Linked DNA regions of Homo sapiens: region 2 is linked to region 1. Evidence: fine-mapped expression QTL. A gene starts in region 1. The other region holds a variant in brackets. All regions are shown on one strand. Distances are from middle to middle.

Region 1 (9,752 bases):
AAGGAGGAGCAGGCACTTTGGTAACAAAGTATAAGATGGAATCAAATTAAGTCCCGGCCAATTAAAAATGCAAATGGCAGTTGCCTTGAAGGTCGGACGCAAAGGGCTCTAGTGAGGCTTTATTTTTGGACCAGCCCAGCTGCCATCTAGCCTGCCTGGAATGAGGCCACAGGAGACACCGTCCTTCCTGGGCCACATCTCTTGCCCATCTCAGGGTGGTGGCACATGTGGGGGGGCACGAAGGCAAGGCCAGGAGCAGCCCCCGCCACGAAGCTCACCTGGAGGCACCTTTGCCATCTCCTGGGGGCGAGAAGGAAGCAGGCTCCCACCCCCACGCCATTTCTCACCTAGGAGAGCCCCCGGTCGTTTTCCCACCGTGAACAGATGGGAAGGGCCAGAGTGCGGGGGCGTGCGCTTCATGCCAGACTCTGGGGTCTGGAGGGCCCCTCACTTCCTCAGGTCAGGATGTACAAGGGAGGCAGATCTAGCGGGGGCTGGGGGAACACAGCCTGCACCAGCGGAGATAGGCACAGGGTGGGGCTGTCCTGACTCTGGTATGTCACGGAGACCTCGGGAGAGGGCTGCTGCCTCACCTGGTGGCCCTGGGGCCCAGTGGTGGCCTGAGCTTGGGGTTTCCTGTGGGTGGATGGACAGAGAGGCTCAGGGCTACACACCAGGCTCCAAGTCTACACTCAGATTTAGGACTCCAAACTCAGGGGGCAGAGTGGGCACCATGAAGACATGGCAGCTTCCCCCTCGGGTGGCTCTCCATGGGTCACCTGGCCTCCTGCCCTCCTGGCCCCACTGAAAAACAAACCCATCCCTGTCACTTGTCTGCGCCCTGGGGACAGACAGGGAAGGTAGATGTAGCTGGGATCCTCCCCCTGCAGGCTTCTCCACGGCGCACACCCAGCCCACATATCCCACAGCCCTGCTTTTAGAGCAGCTCAAGCCTCCCAGCATTGCAGTTACCAAGGCGAAGAGGAGCACCGCCACCAGCGCACCGCGAGCTGGCACGGTAGGAGCCGCAGCACAGCTTCTCCAGGGAGACGGAGGTGCCGGCAGCCCGGGAGGGCCACCCACGCGGGCATGCAGTCGGCAAGCTCGGTGCCTGCCGCGTGCACGGGTCTTCACACTCCGGGCCGACCCACGGCCGCCACGCAGCACACTCCCTTCCTATCCCACCCAGCCTTTCCCATGAGGAGCTGCTGCAATGGGGACCTGGGGTAATGGCCAGAATGGGTCCCACTGACGTCCAATACAGCTCCAGGACAAGGACCCCGAGACTGAGGGAAGGGAGGGCGGCTGTCCTGGTTTCTGGAGTGTAGGGGCACAGATACAGAGAGGCCCTTCATGGACAGCACCCCGCTAAGTCTGAAGGTGGCCCCTAGGGCTGAGTTGGCAGGTGCTTCCACCCTGGGGAGACCCTCCAGGCCTGCCCCTAGACGCCAAGAGCAGGAGGTTGAGCCCAGCACATGTGTGTGGACAGGATGACCTCAAAGGAGAGGCTGCAGCATGCAGCCAGGTGGTAACTGTTTTTAACTAGAGAGCGAAAGGGGAGCTGAGCAAAGCAGTGCACCTCTCACCAGGCAAGGTGTCCTCCCCAACGGCACCCCTCTTCCAGGGATGGGAGTGACTGCAGGCCCAGAGGCCCCCCACTCCTGGCTGGGCCGTGGCCTTCCAGCTTTCCTGCCCAAGGAAACAGGCACAGAATCCCTTCCCCGTCAGCCCAGGAGCCAGATGCAGGCCAGGATTAAGGATCTTCAGATTTTAGAGCAGGGAAATGGTGGACACAGAGGCTGTGGCTGGGGGCGGCCTGAAGAATTTCCCAGCAGGAAGTGTATATAAATAATCCCAGAAGTAGGATTAATAAAGATGAGAAGAGTCTCACGTCCATGCGGGACGGGACTTGCTGCCAACTGAATTCTGGTGTCGAACTTGGGCTAAAACTTTGGGGTTTCAGAGCCGTCTGGATTTCAGCCTCTTGGCTAAGTGGCCGTGGGCCTGGGCTGGCAGCTGTCCCCATGGCTCCAGCACAGCATCCACAACTGTGCCCCGAGCTTCGTCCTTCCTCTCACCTTGAAGGAGGGGAAGGACAAAGGGAGAAAGGCCCACTGGGATTGATGGAAGAACAAAGCTCTTCCCAGGACACGGGCTGCTTAGAGCCAGGGGCAGTGCCGACCCCGCGGTCTCCTGATGGGCACACGGCTGCAGCTGGACCCAGGCCTTCTGGGCTCTGTCCCCCGCACCTCCAATGGGAAAACTCTGACACACCGCCCCGTGTTGGGTGCTGCCATCTCTACTACGGTCAGCCACCTCTATATCTACATCTTCACGGTCTCTGAGATCCTGAATGCTGGGGGATGGCTCTTTGCTGTTTCTTCTGCAGTCTTTGCACTGAGGTGATTTTCAAAGACGCCCCTAAATGTCCTCTCGTGACTCCTAGGGAAGGCGGCCAGCCAGGCCCCGTGGTGGGGCCAAGTTGCCTGGGTGGCTGAGGAGCCCATTTCAGATCCCCAGAGAGGAGATGGGGGGGCACTGTAGGCCAGAGGGGGCTCCAGCCCCGGGGGGCCTCCTTCTCAGCCTCTTCCTTCTCTGGGGAGTCCCTCCCAAAATAGTTAAGAAATCCACCATCTCTTTTCTGTGGCCAGGGGCACCTGGCCGCCGTCCACCTGCACACACTCAGGAGTTCTGCCCACGCCATTTGAAACGGACTCTGAAAGGAGACCCCGGAGGCCGGGCCCACCCTCCACAGCGAGACAGCCTCCTCCGTCCGTCCCAGACCCTCCGGCTGGGGAAGCTCACTGGGGGAACGGGGAACGGCTCCCCCGCAAAGGGAGCAGCCTCCCCGCACCGAGTTCTCAGGTCTTTCCTCTCCTCAAGGCACCCGCCGGGCAGGGACCCGCGAGTGCCGCGGACCCGGGGACCCTCCACGCGCGCCGCGGAGCAGGGGAACCGGGAGGCTCCGACGCCCTCGCCCAGCCCAGGTTCAGCACCAGGACGGCGGACAGCACCGGGCGGGGGCGGCCAGCGCGGGGGTCGCCGCGTCCCGAGCCCAAGGGCAGCGTCCGGGCGAGTCCAACGAGGGGCCCGCGGGGCAAGACCCCGGGGAGGGAGGACGCGGGGCTCTCAGACTTGGGGTCCGGGGCCCGGGGCTCGCGCCGGCCGCTCTCCCAGCCGCTATCTCGGGCCGACGCGGGCCCCCCACCGCCCCCGACCCCGCGCCGCGCGGACCCCGCCCGCTCACCTGGTGCCGCGGAGCTGCTGCGCGCAGAGGAGCAGGAGCGGGGCCAGCAGCCGGGCGGGCGCGTCCATGGCCGCGGCGGGCTCGGGACGGGGTCCGCGCAAACTTGGCTCCCGGCGGCCGCACAGGCGGCACAGGCGGGCGGGAGCTGAGCGAGCGCGGCGCGGGCGCGAGGGGGCGGACGGAGCGCGGAGCCCGCCCCGAGCCCGCCCCAGCCCGCCGCTCCCTGCAGCCCGGCCCCGCCCGCCGCTCCCCTCTCCTCCCCCCGCCCCCCGCCCCATCCCGCCCCCCTCCGCCAGCCGCGCCCCCTCCCTCGCGGGCAGCTCTCCCTGGCCGGGGTCTGGCTCTCCGGGACCGCTGCCCTCACGCGCCGCAGACGGGACCCTCCGGGTGTCTTCATGGGAGGCGACACCGGCACAAGCCCCGCGTGGACACTGTGGCCCACGGGCGCGGCAGAACCTCGTCCCGAGGCGGTTTGTGGGGGGTCGCACGTCTGCGTGGCTGCTTCTGGCTGCGCCGGCGGTGGGTGGGGAGGGGGCCAGTCCCTGCAGCTGTCAGGAGAGAGACCCCCACCAGCGGCTGCTTCCAAAACCCTCCTGCCTTCGCGGGAGCTGGGGCCAGGCGACTTTGGGAGCAAGTCCTGATCCCTGGGGACCCTCGACGGGGGCGGGGAGAGGAAAAGCAGGTGGGGGCTGCGCCGCAGGCCGCAGTTCTGACTCTCCACACCTCTCATGGCCCCAGGCCCGCCCTCCACACCCCTAGGATCTGGGAAAGGGAAGGCCTCACACTCTCCTGCCTTGGATCTTTTGAACATAAAGTTGCGCTGCCATTTCCTGAAGCTGCTCACAAACTTTAATCATTGTTGTGTCAGTTATTCACTTCTGGGCTCGCGATGTCGCTGACAGCACAGTGTCAACCCCTCGTGAAAACACTTAAAAATGGCGAAGCTGTCCCCGAGGCTGCGTGCTTCTGGATGAAGGGCCCTGGCCGCACAGGGGCAGGTGGAGGAAAGTGCAGAGAGGGATTTGCTTCGGAATTTCCAGCCCAATCCCTACTGTGGGAAGTGGAAGAATGAGGCTGGTTCCAGTTTGCTTGCTTTATTTATGTTATGTTATGTTATGTTATGTTATGTTATGTTATGTTATGTTATGTTATGTTATTTTTCGAGATGGAATCTGGCTCTGTTACCCAGGCTGGAGCACAATCTCGGCTCACTGCAACTTCTGCCTCCCAGGTTCAAGCAAGTCTCCTGCCACAGCTTCCCGAGTAGGTGGGATTACAGGCACCTGCCACCACGCTCGGTTATTTTTTTGTATCTTTAGTACAGACGGAATTTCACCATGTTGGCCAGGCTGGTCTCGAACTCCTGACCCCGTGATCCGCCCGCCTCGGCCTCCCAAAGTGCTGGGATTACAGGCGTGAGCCACTGCACCCAGCCCTAGCCTGCTTTCTTAAATCAAGGAACGGGGCTCTAACAAGCCCAACAGGTCTCAACTCCAAGGCCCCCTTCCCGGCTGCTCACTGGCCCCTGCCGAGAGGGGTCCTTTGGGTACAGAAGCACTGACCTCCCTGTGTTCCCGGGGTTCCTGTCCGAGCCTGTGCTCTGCACACGTGCCCCTTCCCACGTGTCCCTTCCATGGATTAATTTAGGAGTTAATTCATGAAGAGGTGCCCAGAGCTTGGCCCGGCCCCCGGTGAGAGGCATTATTTTTATTCTTCCCCCTCCAGAACAGGGGTCTTGTCCGTCTTCTCCTTGGTGGTGTATTGGATGAAGTAGGTGCTCAGCAAATGTAGGAGGAGGTGCAGACTCCACATCTGCAAAGTCCATGCACCCACTGCGGCCAGCACGCCATCACTGCCTCCGGACAGTGCCCCGCCCTCCCTGTCTTTCCTTCCTGAGCTTTGGAACTAAGCAGTGAGAGTGGTTCATGGTCGCAATCCCTTCAATATCTGCGAAGAGCTTATCTGAGGATATCTTGGTGCTGATCACCTCTGAGAAGCAGCGTTGATCTTGACTCACTGGATCCGATTCATTCAGGATAAGCCACACCCTATTGCCATTTTCTTCACGCTCCTCTATTATCTGGGGCATAAAATTAACATTCAATTTTCTTCTTTTTCTTTTAAGAGACAAGGTCTTGCTCTGTGGCCCAGGCTGGAGTGCAGTGGCACGATCTCAGCTCACTGTAGCCTCCACCTCCCGGGTTCAAGGGATCCTTGCACCTCAGCTTCTGGAGGAGCTGGGACCACAGAGGCATGTCACTGCACCCAGATAATTTTCTATTTTTTGTAGAGATGGGGTCTCACTATGTTTCCCAGGCTGGTCTCAAACTCCTGGCCTCAAGGGATCCTCCCCCGTGGCCTCCCAAAGTGCTGAGATTGCAGGCATGAGCCTCCGTGCCCAGCCAATGTTGAACTTTTGCTGGAAAGTCGTGCTGTTGTGTGTATGTCAGTTGAAGCTGGGCGGGCATCTTAGCCAAATATCTGGTGGTTTGGTGGCATCAAATTGTCTCCTCTTCCTTCAGTCCTAGAGGCAAATGCATGTCCCATCCATCATTCACAGGTTTCTGCAAGGTTTGAAGTCTGCACACTTCATTTCCATTCTTTATTGTTCCTAACTGGTCTTTCTTTCTTTCTTTCTTTTTCTTTCTTTCTTTCTTTTTTGTTTTTGAGATGGAGTTTCGCTCTTGTTGCCTAGGCCGGAGGGCAGTGGCACTATCTCAGCTCATTGCAACCTCCACCTCCTGGGTTCAAGCAATTCTCCTGCCTCAGCCTCCCAAGTGGCTGGGATTACAGGCGCCTGCGACCATGCCCAGCTAATTTTTGTATTTTTAGTAGAGACAGGGTTTCACCATGTTGGCCAGGCTGGTCTCGAACTCCTGACCTCAAGTGATCGGCCCACATCGGCCTCCCAAAGTGCTGGGATTACAGGCGTGAGCCACCACACCCGGCCTCCTAACTGATGTTTCAGTTTGGATCTGAAGAACGGGAATTTTCATAATTTCTTTTTCAAGGTTTTTGAGAATTAGTTTGTTGCCATTTCCGAACTTCCATCCCATTGTGATGTGCATAACCAGTCGGCTTCCTTAGCCTCATCCTCCACCCAGGGAAGCTCCGACCACGCCAGCACCAGGAAGGCCAGCCGGGGAGCAGCCTGGCCCAGGGGTCAGGAGCCGGGGCCTGTGTGACTGGGGCCTGTGTGGCTGGCACCTGGTGGATGTGAGCCCCAGGACAGGGAGTTTCTGTGCCCATGAGATGGAAGCAGCTCACTTCTTGGCCCCTTTCAAGAATCTGGGAAGAGCTCCAGGAGTCAGAGGTCTGGGTGCCAGTCCCAGCTCTGCTCCAAACTGGCCGTGTGACCTCAGCGAAGTTATTTCCCAGTTTTGTTTTCTTCTTTTACAAAATGACAGGGTGAGAGTCGTGATTGGTTTTCTTAGTGTCAGAAGTGCTGAACTCTGTTAGAAAGCGTCTCAGGTTGTTTTGTTTGACAGTGACTACCCACTTTGCAGAGACCTGGGCTGCCCGCTCTCTGGGGAATACTGGAGGTTATGCCCCATCTCCTGTCCTGTGGGAGAACCCACCCTCCGAACGAGGCTCTGGTGAGGTTTTCACAATCAGTAACAAGGCCGATCTCCATCAATGGAAGTCTCCCCGTTTGAGATGGGGTGTGTGCTCCTTACCCAGGCTCCTGAACAAAACCCACCTCCTTGTCTTGGCACCACTGAGAGTGCACACCGAGGGGGCTCCAGCACCAGATTGTGGGAACAGTCACGAGAAAGCAGCTCAGACTTCACACCCAGAGCCCTTGATCCCTACACACCCAGTATTCCTTCACAGCGCTCTTCCTGCTTCCTGGACACGTGGAACTGCTTCTCCATCGGGGAGGATCCATCCAGAGCCCTTTGGGTGGGTGCTCAGGGCAATAGCTGCTGCCTCTTCCTTCTGCTCAGTGCTGGGAGGCGTTACACTTTCCCCATATGGCACGGAGCAGAACGTGCACCTTTGGCTCTGGAAGGAATGAACATCCTACCCGTTAGTTAGCCCTGGGAGTCACTGACTCGGTTCTTCCCTGGACACCAATGTCCTATGGAGCACACAGAAAGCCACGGAAGTGTGGTCTGCGGGTTGAGGTGGGTATTCAGATGCCAGCCTGCAGCCCACTTACATTGTTTCTTTTGGACTGACACCTTGCCGGATGCTCAGATGCCCACAGCGCAGGGGAAGGGACGGCCTAGAGTCCGAGGCGTGGGCAGGGAGCTGGCCCCCGTCCATTGCTGCAGCTCCGCAGCAGCAGGACAGCCCTGGGAGGTGGAGGTGAGTCACCGGGACCTGGGAGAGGAAACGGCGCTCGCTAAATTTAAACCTCCTTCCTGATGTATTTGTGAGGTTGTTCTGTTACTTTCCTGGGGAAATGCACCAAACAGAGAAAATGGCAGGGACACAGAGAAGAACGTTATCGAGTTAGGTGGTAATTATTAATCCTGTGATTTTCAGACGGACTCCGTTCATGTGGATAAGCAGAGGAAATTTGGCAGAAACGACCAAATGCAAAATACGTGTAGCAGCCTGAGACCGGCCGTCTACTGAAACAAAGGATGCAGTTCAGTCGGAAACCACGCTTAGCTGAGTAGCTGTCTTTAGCCATCCAGGCCCTGAGAACCAATGAACAACCCAGCTTGGCCGCTTAGAACATTTTTTCTATACTTGAGTTAAATAGATATCCAAGAACCATTACTCGTTTTTAATGTGGAGAAGTCGGTATTCTATTCTCGTGTTCTATGTTTTTTAAAGTGGCAATTTGAATTATTTCGTGCGATAGAAAACCTTAAACACAAAGTAACGTTTCTAACAAAAGGGCTGTCGATCAAGTGACAAACACGTCCTACTTTTAGATACAAGCACGACTGAGGCAACGGCACGAAGACGCCTAAAGTGGGCTGCTGGGGAGACAAGATCTGGCCGCGAATGGAACTCGCGGCAGCTCATTAACGGGACCGTCCAGCAGGAAGGTGGGTTGGCAGCCTTCTCCCAGGGCTCCCCACGATCCCTACCCCTGGTGTGGCGTGGCCTTCCTCCTCACATGTCGTCTGGACCAAGCAGTGTGTTGTTCTCATCCATAAAGAGTGATGGGCCGGGCACGATGGCCACACCTGTGATCCCAGCACTGTGGGAGGCTGAGGCGGGAGGATCTCCTGAGCCCAGGAGTTTGACACCAGCCTGGGTAGCATAGGGAGACCCTGTCTCTACAGAAAAAAAGTTAGCCAGGTATTCCAGAGGCTGAGGTGGGAGGATCGCTTGAACCCAGGAGGTGGAGACTGCAGTGAGCCGTGATCGCACCACTGCACTCCAACCTGGGCAACAGACTGAGACCCAGTTTCTAAAACAAATAATAAAAAGGCAGGGTGCAGTGGCTCATACCTGTAATCCCAGCACGTTGGGAGGCCAAGGTGGGCGGATCACTTGAGGTCAGGAGTTCGAGACCAGCTGGCCCACATGGTAAAACCCCATCTCTACTAAAATGCAAAAATCAACCGGGCACAGTGGCACACGCCTGTAATCCCAGCTCTTCAGGAGGCCGAGGCAGGAGAACTGGGAGGCAGAGATTGCAGTGAGCTGAGATCGTGCCACTGCACTCCAGGCTGGGTGACAGAGCTAGACACCATCTTGAAAAAAAATAAAAGTTAAATAAAAAGAGTGATGAGGCATCCTGAGATTCATTTATAAAATGCCGTGATTCAGGTCTCAGGGCACTGTCGCCCCTACTCACTTTGATGAAGCCAGTGCTGGGTTGCTGCTGAGGTGGGGAGGTTCATGGGCCAGGAACTGAAGGCAGCCATGAGAGCCAGACCCCTCCACCACCCCCAAGACAGCAGGGAACTCACTCCAACAGCCACCCTGGGATGCTGCCACAGCTGAGCCTGGAGGTGACCGTGACCCTGGCTGACGTCGGACTGCAGCTTTGTAAGGGAGACTGAGCCGGGACCCAGACCTACAAAAGCTGAGATGATAAACACTGTTTTAAGCTGCTGTGTGTCGCAGTGACTCGTGTGGTAGTGGATTTCTAGCAGAGCCGTCGTTCGTGTCTGCCTTCTCTCAGCTCAACACTCTGTAGGGCCACCCATGCCGTTGTGCATGTCAACGGTGGATTTTTTATTGCGAGTAATATTTCATTCCATTGCATGCTCACACCTCGGTTTGTTTAACTGTCTACCTGTTGATGAGCTCTGGGACATATGCAGTTCTGGGCTATTATGAGTAAAGCTGCTTTTAACATTTAAATACAAGTCTGTGTATGGACACATGTTTTCGTTTCTTTTGAATAAATATGTGTGGGATTACTGGGTTTCAAGGGGACTGTATGTTTAAGTTGGTAAGAAGCTGCCAATCTGCTTTCTTTTCTTTCTTTCTTTTTATCTTTTTGAGATGGAGTCTCACTCTGTCACCCAGGCTGGAGTGCAGTGGCGTGATCTCGGCTCACTGCAACCTCCGCCTCCCGGGTTCAAGAGAT
Region 2 (9,927 bases), 57 kb after region 1:
CCCTCCACATCATTTCCCAGAAATCCACCTGAATCTGGAGCTGTCTGCTCTTGTTTCCTGGTTTCCTCTTTTTTGGAAGTGAGGGGTCCCTGCCTTGTCAATGGAGCAGAAAGTCAGTCGGTCCCCAGGGCCTTTCTGAGCAACTCAGAGCAACTCCCCGGGCCATGGGGCTCTTCCCAGCTCCAGCGCTGGTGGCAGCCGGTGGGGCTGGGCTGTCCGTGCTCTGCTAACCGCTACCCTCGCCTCCGAGCTGCCACCGGCGCCGCCCAGGTGGAGCCGCTAACAGCCCCAGCCTCTGTCTCTGTGACCCCCAGGTGCCCAAGGAGGACGTGGACCGAAAGCCCGTGGGCGGGACAAAGATGGACAAGGACATCCTGGAGCGCACGGTGGAGCGGCTGCGGAGCAGGGTGGTCCACAAGCAGGTGGTGTGGGGGCGTGAGTTCCAAGGACGCCCCTTCAACAGCAAACCGGAGCTCCTCCACTTCCAGGTGAGCCCGCAGCTGGGCCAGGAACGGGACGGGCAGCAGCACAGGACAGCAGGGGAGCCCTGCCGCAGCCCAACCCCTGACACCTTTTGCTTTTTTTTGAGATGGAGTCTCACTCTGTCGCCCAGGCTGGAGTGCAACGGCATAATCTCAGGTCACTGCAACCTCCGCCTCCTGGGTTCAAGCGATTCTCCTGCCTCAGCCTCCCGAGTAGCAGGGATTACAGGCGCCTGCCACCACGCCTGGCTAATTTTTGTATTTTTAGTAGAGACGGGGTTTCACCATGTAGGCCAGGCTGGTCTCGAACTCCTGACCTCAGGCGATCTGCCCGCCTCAGCCTCCCAAAGTGCTGGGATTGCAGGCATGAGCCACTGCGCCTGGCCTGCCTTTCGCTTTTTAACGCTGGAAAACCCGGGGGCTTCCTCAGGAGGCACAGGCCCAAGTGTGGACCTTCTCTTCCAGGAGGTGGAGGGAGAGGGCCCCATCCCCATGGAGGGCTGGACGCCAGTCTGAGCAATGGGGGTGCCGTGGCCCCGAAAGCCCTGTGCCACTTGGGGCAGTGGGGGTCCCCTGAACCTCGGGACAGGGATGTAGCAGGGACAGGGTGGGAACATGTGAGGCTGAGGTTGGTGCCTGGACGCCTCTGCCAAACTCTGCAAGACAGAGCAGGCTGTGGGCTCCTGTATTTGACCCCAGCTCAAGTCCATCCATGGAGTCAGGGACCCACCTTGGAACCCACAGTGTCTGAGCCTTTTCTCTTACTCCCACCTGCGGGCCCCAGCAAGGCCCTGTCCTGCCTCAAGTGGCGAAGGCTCTTATGTGACAGGTTCCACCCCCAGACCTGTCCTTCATGCACCCCAGGGGCCTTCTCGATTCTGGGAGAAACCTTGGAAATTGTTCCCTGGGAACCTCTCCCTAGTTGGCAAATGCTCACCAGCGGTTACCTTGAGGCAAAGCTGCCTCGGTGCTCACAGCACAGCCCCCTGTGACCCGCTCTGAAGCTGCTACCTCGGCCTTTCCCAGGACTTTGATATTGGCAAAGTGTACAAGAAAAAGATCACGTTGGTAAACACCACCTACACGATCAACTACTGCAAGCTGGTGGGCGTGGAGGAGCACCTCCGGGACTTCATCCACGTTGAGTAAGAGGACGGCTCAGACAGGGAGGGACGCGGTGCAGGGACAGCAGGAGGTTCATAGGTCCCTTCATGTTCAGAACGGCTGGAACAGGCTCTATATGGGCATAAGCCCTCAGGTCCGATTTTCACGAAGATTTTGTAGAGGGGGCTCCTCTGTCTTCTTGTGTCAAAGTCGTCCGAGACCGAGCCCATTTCCCTTCACGAATGGCTGGAACTTTGCCTGGCTGCCCAAGTTTCCTTTTGTTTTTCTTCGTTTTGTTTTGCTGCCTTTTTTTTTTTTTTTTTTTTTTTTTTTGAGATGGAGTCTTGCTCTGTCGCCCAGGCTGGAGTGCAAGTGCGATGGCGCGGTCTCAGCTCACTGCAACCTCTACCTCCTGGATTCAAGAGATTCTCCTGCCTCAGCCTCCCCAGTAGCTGGGATTACAGGCACCTGCCACTACGCCTGGCTAATTTTTATATTTTTAGTAGAGACCGGGTTTTACCATGTTGCCCAGGCTGGTCTCGAACTCCTGACCTCAGGCGGTCCACCTGCCTTGGCTTCCCAAAGTACTGGTATTACAGGCATGAGCCACCACACCTTGTCAGAGTTTCCTTTTGTATTGTTATGTTTTGATGTTGACCATTCTGATAAGTTTTCCCTGGCAATTAGCCAGTGTTTTCAGTGTCAAGGTGAAAGCTGTCTTCATTTCAGCACTGCCTCCCTGAATTAAGGCCGTGCTTTCACTCTGTAACAATGTTTCCATTTGCTTCCTTGCAGACTCCACTTACCTGTGTTTTGGATCCTCCTTGCTGGTCTTTGGTGTCTGATGTTTTCCTTCTGGTTGCCTTTAATGCTTTCTGCTTTCCTTTTCTTTGTTTTGTTTTTGACAGGGTCTTGCTCTGTCACCCAGACTGGAGTGCAGTGGCACGATCTCAGTTCACTGCAGCCTCAATTTCCCAGGCTCCAGCAATCCTCCTGCCTCAATCAGCCTCCTGAGTAACTGGGACCACAGCTGTGTGCCACCAAGCCCGGCTAATTTTTCTATTTTTTGTAGAGACAGGGTTTCACTGTGTTTCCCAGGCTGGTCTCAAACTCCTGAGCTCAAGTGATCCACCTGCCTCAGCCTCCCCAAGTGCTGGGATTACAGGTGTGAGCCCCTGTGCCTGGCCCATTTTCTTCTTTTCTCTTTTATTTTATTTTTCTTCATTTTTCCCTCTGACGGCCTTTTCCATGTTTTCTGCAATGTTTCTCTTTTCTTCTGCTCCTTAGTAACTTACTTTTTTTTTTTTTTTTTTGAGATGGAGTTTCACTCTTGTTGCCCAGGCTGGAGTATAGTGGCACAATCTCGGCTCCCTGCAACCTCTGCCTCCTGGGTTCAAGCGATTCTTCTGCCTCAGCCTCCTGAGTAGCTCGGATAACAGGCGCCTGCCACCACGTCCGGTTAATTTTTTGTATTTTAGTAGAGACGGGGTTTCACCATGTTGGCCAGGCTGGTCATGAACTCCTGACCTCAGGTGATCCGAGGCCCACCTCGGCCTCCCAAAATGCTAGGATTACAGGCGTGAGCCACAGCACCCAGCCTAACTTACTTTATTTTTAAGAAAGTTCTTTCTCTTCTACTTCCTGCTTCCTGCCAGTTTTCTCTTTGTGGACAGGTTTGTAGGTCCAGGATGGCTTTCGGATTCCCAGTTCAGGAGTTTCCACTCCCGCGAGCGTTGTGAAGTGCAGCTTCTCAAAAGAGGGTCAGCAAGGGCAGGATCCTCATTCCCCCCTTGCTGCCCAGGCTCCAGAGGGGCCTCCTCTTCTCCCACGAGGCATCTTCCTGAGGCTGCCCCCAGGGGCGCGTGGGCTCTGATGGCCCCTCCCTGAGATCAGCACTGACTCACTGGGACTTGGTATTTTCTTGTGGAGGCTGTGATGTTCTCTTTGGGGAGCTGATTTTAGGTCAGTCTTAGGGTCTTTGTTCCCGTCTCCTTCCTCTCTTCCCTGCAGTTTTTCAGACCTTCGTAGCTCTCTGTGAAGGCGGGCATGGAGAATGCATGCTGGAGGTTGGTGTTTACTTTTCACCTTATGGTTAATTTTAAGTCTGGAGGGTTCTGTGTCCTCTAGTCATGCTGAAGGCATGGGATTTCTGCAGCCCGCCTGTTTCTCTCATTGATCCATGTGGTTTCTGGAGGGCGCGTGCAGAGGTGGGTTTAGGTGGTCGCTGTGCTCTCAGCCACCGAGGCATTCCTCCCCACGCTGGGATGAGAACTTCTCATGGACGGTTATTTTCTCTCAACAGGTTGAGGCCACCACTCTCCTGCCCTCTGCCTCTTGTTGCTGGAGTGGGAGGTGGCCTCGGTCCAGGTGCTGGTTTTTTTGGAGGATACCTGGCTTTCCGCCTGCTTGCTCTGAGATTCTCTCATCCTTAATGTCCCGCAGCTCTGCTGTGCGTCTGGTGTGGGCTGATTTTTCTTAGACCTCACTGTGCTGTTGAATCTGAAGATTCAGATCTTTGAACAATTTTGGGAACTTCTCAGCCCCAGCTCCCCAGGCATCGCCCCTCCCCCATTCATTCTCCGGCTCTGCCCTCCTGCTCCTCCTTTTGAAACCTCCCCGTCGGGTTGGAAATTTCTTGTCTCTTTTTCGCATTGGGTGGTGCTCTAGGTGCTGCTCGGTTCACCACTTGTCCCCTTAGTGCTGCTAATCAACGGTTGAAATTGCTCAGTAAGTTTCTTACTCAGCTGCCCTGTCTCTCATTTCTAAAAATGCCAAGTTCTGTTTTGGATGAGTCTGCATTTCTTGACAGTGTCTTGTTCTTTTCTCACGTCTGGAATTCTCTATTTCTGTCTCTAACCATTTTATCTATACGTCCTCTAACATCCCCACTCCACGCTTCTGTC[A/G]TCTGAAGGGTTTGGAGCTCGGCCCTGCACTCTGCTGCTGGTTTATGTGAGGCACGCACGTCCACCCTCTCGGATTCTGCTCCTCTCCCCGGCAGCTCCATCCCGGGCTCTGTGCAGTCGGCACCAAAGCATTTCCCTCCCAATTGGAGGAGCTTTGGGTTTGCTTCTGCTGGTGCCGTGGGAATGTTGCCAGCCAGGGACACATTTTACATTAAAATTTTAGCTTGTGCATTTCTAAACCAAGCACATTAGGTAAAATCCAACCTTGTGAAATCAGCCTGGCGTCAGGAATTCCTTGGGGAGATGCTCCCTCACCCTGATCTGGGCCAAGACAGACCAGCTCCCTCAAGTGGCCTGTGCAGTAGGGGCTATTTTTGTGGTTCTTTCCCTGAAAGGGGCTGAGAGGGTCCCGAGGGTCCCAGCTGTCTCAGGACTCCCAGTTCCAGCTCTCTTCCTGGCTCCTGCCCACAGCCCCCTGGTCCCATATTGGTATCAAAGCCCTAGAGCCCCGGTCCCAGGCCTGGCACCTGTGCCCAGGGGAACTGTGGCCCTCTCCGACCCATGGGGTCCCATTTCCTGGCAGTTGGCCTGGGGACTTGCCTCACGCCTTCAGTGATTAACTCCCTCACTCCACAAACGTTCGCACACACTGGAGCGCCCCCTGCCTGCCAGGTACTGGCGGCAGCAGGGAATGCAGCAGATCCAGCACTCCCCGGGGTGAAGGCGGCTGGGCAGGGGGCCAGGCCCGGGATGGGGAGGAGGCCAGGAGGCCCAGCCTGACTGTGCTCTGGGTGGTGAGGCGAGCGTCTGCCCTCCGCAGCACTAACCCCCGTGTGCTATGGGTCACGTCCTGCAGCTTTGACCCCCCTGGCCCCCTGTCAGCCGGAATGTCCTGTGAAGTGCTTGTCACCTTCAAGCCGATGGTGAGTCAGAGGGGCCCGTTCTCTCTCGAAGGGGAGGTGGTGGTGGGTGGAGCCTGTGATCGGGCATGGTGGCGCAGAACATGATGGGGGAAGGATGCACTTGGCCTCTCAGTGAGGATCACGCAGGCCCCTGTTTTGCTATTTTACTTCCAAAAATACACTCAACATATTCCTGAATGCTGGGCAGAACCGCGGCGCAGCTCCTCTGGGTTAGTGGCCGAGGGCGTGCACTCTCGGGTCTAAGTCGGGAGGGCTGGGATGTTCCAGGAAGCTAGTGTCCAGCCCTCCTGAGATGCCCTCTACTGACTCTTTCCCCTGGGGTCACCCGAGCTGGGCAGGTGGCAGGCGGCCCTGGCCCAGGTAGCCACGGCACATGTAACAGGCTAAAGTTACAGGAGGGAGGGGTGTGGTGGCTTATGCCTGTAATCCCAGCACTTTGGGAGGCCAAGGCAGGAGGGTCGCTTGAGCCCAGAAGTTCAAGACCAGCCTGGGCAACATGGCGAGACCCCGTCTCTACAAAAAATACAATTAGCCAGATATGGTGGCGCATGCCTGTAATCCCAGCTAGTGGAGAGGCTGAGGTGGGAGGATCGCTTGGACCCCAGGTGGGGGTGGGTGGAGGGGGGTTGCAGTGAATCGAGCAGGTGCCACTGCACCCCAGCCTGGCCAACAGAGCCAGACCCTGTCCAAAAAAAAAACAAAACACACAAAAGTTGCAGAAGTGTATTGTGGTGGGGGTTGTTTTATGTTTTAGATAAACAAGGATCTAGAAGGAAATATCTCATTTTTGGCTCAGACGGGCGAGTTTTCAGTTCCACTGAAATGTTCAACAAAGAAATGTTCGGTGAGTTCAAAGGTGTCCGAGCCAGCATTTCTCGGGGCATGCTGGCTGGGAACCCCAGTGGGGGACGGCATCTCCTGGGAGGGGGTGCAGGTTGGCGGGGGGACCAGGTGGAAGCTCCAATCTTCACCAGGGGCTGAGCCCCTTCTTCCAACAGCAGCTCAGGTGGGCCTGAGCCGAACCTTAGGTGGGGTCTCGAACGTGGGGCACTCGGACCAGTGCTGGAAAAATGAGACAAACCCTGCTCTGTGTGGAGCCCAGACTGCAGGGCCTGTGGCTCAGGAAAACTTAACATTCATCTGCAGCTCTTGGGGGGATCCCGCCTGATTCTTTTTAACTAAGAAAAATTTCAAGCATAGAGGAAAACAGAACAGCAGAACAAGGCTCCACGCGCTGCAACCCGGACCCCGCATCCTCCCAGACTCCACATTGTCGGCCTCGGACACCTTTGCTTGGTCCATCAACTGCTATATCTGTTGTTGCTGATCCATTTCAAAGTACATTAGTAAAATGTCAACACTCCACCCTCAGAAACTTCAGCATGCATCTCCAGTAAACCAGGAACCCACACATCATTGTCCCCCCGGCCCCCGCCGAGTAATTGGTCAGCTCGCACCGCACCTGCCACACAGCAAACGGCTCCTGGCTCAGCCGCGAGTGTGAAGCCCTCTGCGGCCAGCCCCGTCCAGGCTGGACTCCAGAGTGGCAGCTACGGCAGCACGAGCATCTCCCAGAGGACAGTGGGGACGTCATTATCTCCTAAGAATTCTCAGGTCAAGGCAAGTCTCACAGCCTGAGCCTGCGTCAGCGGGGCAGGAAGAGGCCCATTCTTACACTAGAGGAGGAACAAGCCGGGGCAGGCGAAGGGCAGAGGCGCGCTATGTCCCCCACCCCAGGAAGATCAGCAGACGCCCTCATGGTCACCCGTGATCCAGGCCACGCTGGCCCCAAGCCACCTTTGATGAGCACCTGTGTAACTTTCTCTGTCGCGTGCTTCCTCCTTCACCGCGTGTCGCCGTGGAGAGGGGTTGGGATGAGAGTCACCGATGGTGGCAGAGAGAGAAGTGTTTTCCTCTCAGTTTCTTCATAGGCTCACCAGTGTTTGAGTATTTGGTGTGTTCCAGTCACTTTAGTCTCCCTTCCTCTTGGCACTCAAGTGGCCCCGCTTGGGTTCATGCAGGGACCACTGCCGTCCTAGGGCACCCGAGCAGCTCCTTGCCCTGTGGCTGCCGCCTTCTCCTCAGAGCGGTCACGGTTGGGCCGGCACTCGGCTGTGCGGGCTCTTGGTGAGCCAAGACTCAGGCCCAGGACACCGAGCACCAGGGCCAGGGGCAGCAGGAAGTCCCCCGCCCCCCCGCAGACAGCCAGGCTCCGGCTCCCTCCTGCTCAGCCTGGGAGCCCGGCAGGAGTCTGGTACTGGCCTGCTCCACTCCGGATCAGCATCATGGAGCACGTGCCCGGCGAGGCCCCAGGTGTCCTGGCCAGAGCTGCCCCGGCCTCTCCCGCATTTGGTCTTTGCAGTGTCAAGTGCTCCTCTGTGACAGGAGCACCGAGACCCTCGGCTCCCCTGAGCAGGGGCTTGCTTCTCCCAGGGGAGCGTCCAGGCTGGGGACTGTAAAAACAGTAAAACCCCATCTGAACAAGGGGAGAACAGGACCCAGGCGGTGCAGGCGGGAAGGAGGCGGCCTCCCTTGGCTGGACCCCGACCGCCCTCTGCGAACCACGTCCATTTGCGTCGGTGGCCCCTGGTCCTGCCCCTGGAGCAGGAGCACAGAGTGGGGAGCCCCTGGGCCTCCAAACTCAGAGCCCAGAAAAGCCTCCCGAGGAGGGGCCATTGGGCAGAGCCGAGGTATGGCCCGGGCCTGCATCCTTAGCCAGCACCAGAGCTTCTGTGGCCTGTGGCCCACAGCGGGCATGGTGAGGCACCCCCATGGAGGGCGTGCTCCCGTTCTGGAAGGATGCTCCCTGGGTCCCTGTATCCAGAGTCCAGCTGACCTCACCCAGGAATGACACCATCCATCCTCAGGACCTCCAAAGCCCCGTGTCCAGGCTCCTTGTTTAGGCCCTGCATCCGGGCCCTGCGTCCTCTCACTGAACCCTTGTTACTCCGTGGCGAGGGGGCTCCTGCCTTGATGTTCTTAAAACCAGACTCGCGTGCCACACCTTGTCATGAGCAATACACACCTGATTTCTGGGTTGAATCGTGTACCTGCTTGTGCAGTGCACAACGCGCACAAATGCTCAGGGCAGCCCTGCCTGGAGCCACGTGCAGGCCTCACGCTGGGCACCCTGTGGGCCTGGCACGGTGGCCCTGAGTTCACTCCATGTCCTCTGGCAGCTGTCCCTCGACAAGGAGCTCATTGACTTCGGCAGCTACGTGGTAGGAGAGACCACGTCTCGGACCATCACGCTGACCAACGTTGGGGGCTTGGGCACGACTTTCAAGTTCCTGCCAGCTTCAGAGCCCTGTGAGATGGACGACTCCCAGTCTGCCCTGAAATTAGTGAGTGTGCCACTCAGCCATGGGGGAGTGTGGGGACCTGCCCCCCAAATCCAGTCCCATGTGGGTGAACAGAGGTGACAACATGAGGGTATCAACAGTGGGCCTGGGAGAAGGAGGGCAGTGTGGGGGCCTCCTCAAATCAGCCTAAGCAGAAGAGACCAGCTTCTTCTGTAGGACACCTGCAGTCACCTGGCCTCAGGGGCAGCAGCAGCAGGACACTCCCTTTCTCAGGCACGTAGCAGCAGGGGTGCTGGCCAGCAGCTCCAGGCCCGAGGGCCCCAGGAGACCCAGCCTCCCCCGACGCATCTCTGAAGCCCCAGGTGTGGGGGTGGGAGGACTGGACAGGTGCACTCCATGGCCACAGCTGCACCTGTTCCAAGTGTGAGCGCGTCTTGTCCTGTCACGGGTATGGGTGTCCCAAGGCTCAGGTGGAGAGAAGCCTCAGCCTCTAGCCAGCCAAGGAGGAAGGAGGGTTGGACCAAGAGGAAGATGTGGCTCACACTCCCAGGCTGGGGCAGCACAGCCATGCCCACCCGGCCTGGAGTGAGGGAGGCTGAGGGGTGACTCTGAGTCTCTGGGTGAGCTGCTGCTGTGATCCCACAACCAGGATGGGTGAGACGAGAGCAGGCAGCCGAGGAGGCAGCTGAGGGGCCACGCTGGAGCCAGGGTCCAGCCCCCAACACGGCCTGTCCTCATGGGAGTTCCGGCAGCTGACTGGGAAAAGGAGGTGGGAAACCTCCCAAGCCAGGATGTTGATTCTCCTCTCTAGAGCAGTCTCCTGACCTACGAAGATAAAAGCTTGTATGACAAAGCCGCCACCAGCTTCTCTGAGCAGCAGCTAGAGGGCACGGAGTCCTCCCAGGCGGACATGCAGAGCCGGAAGGAGCTGGAGAAGCTGGACAAGGAGCAGGAGGAGGAGCAGCCCGCAGGTGAGCCAGGCTGCCAGGCCAAGCCAGGGTGGGCGGGCGGTGAGGGCCTCAGGGCAGCATTCCAGGGGGCTGAGGGGCCCAGGGGAGGGCTGGAAAGTAGAGAATTTTCCTAGGCCTTCGATGTTAAGTGACGGTTAAGCAAGAAAATATTCTTATGTGCCACTAAGTGTTGTTTTTGGAGTGGACGAAAATGTACATTCACGTTGACGCTAACCGAAGACTTGAAGGCACCTCCAGCATTG

The links. PIP is the estimated chance that this variant, and not a neighbour inherited with it, causes the effect.
Region 2: its variant is fine-mapped to the expression of GABRD in whole blood (TOPMed, PIP above 0.99). The same link has a PIP of 0.9 or more in blood mononuclear cells.

The regions. Positions count from the first base shown.
Region 1 is chr1:2,012,987-2,022,738 of GRCh38, reverse strand. It overlaps GABRD (gamma-aminobutyric acid type A receptor subunit delta), which reads right to left and starts at 3,394. Exons shown (of 9, transcript NM_000815.5): 1 at 3,248-3,394. The coding sequence starts at 3,315. It overlaps LOC105378589 (a long non-coding RNA gene), which reads left to right and starts at 4,651. Exons shown (of 2, transcript XR_001737844.3): 1 at 4,651-7,558; 2 at 7,739-9,541. RefSeq lists enhancers at 3,222-3,799, 3,800-4,378.
Region 2 is chr1:1,955,449-1,965,375 of GRCh38, reverse strand. CFAP74 (cilia and flagella associated protein 74) reads left to right here. Exons shown (of 39, transcript NM_001304360.2): 13 at 315-488; 14 at 1,509-1,627; 15 at 5,346-5,412; 16 at 6,167-6,256; 17 at 8,592-8,756; 18 at 9,526-9,685. LOC107984872 (a long non-coding RNA gene) reads right to left here and starts at 8,008. Exons shown (of 3, transcript XR_007065354.1): 1 at 7,223-8,008; 2 at 6,875-7,012; 3 at 6,346-6,474. RefSeq lists enhancers at 4,795-5,500, 6,446-7,085, 7,086-7,726. The variant A/G (reference allele first, on the strand shown) is at 4,490.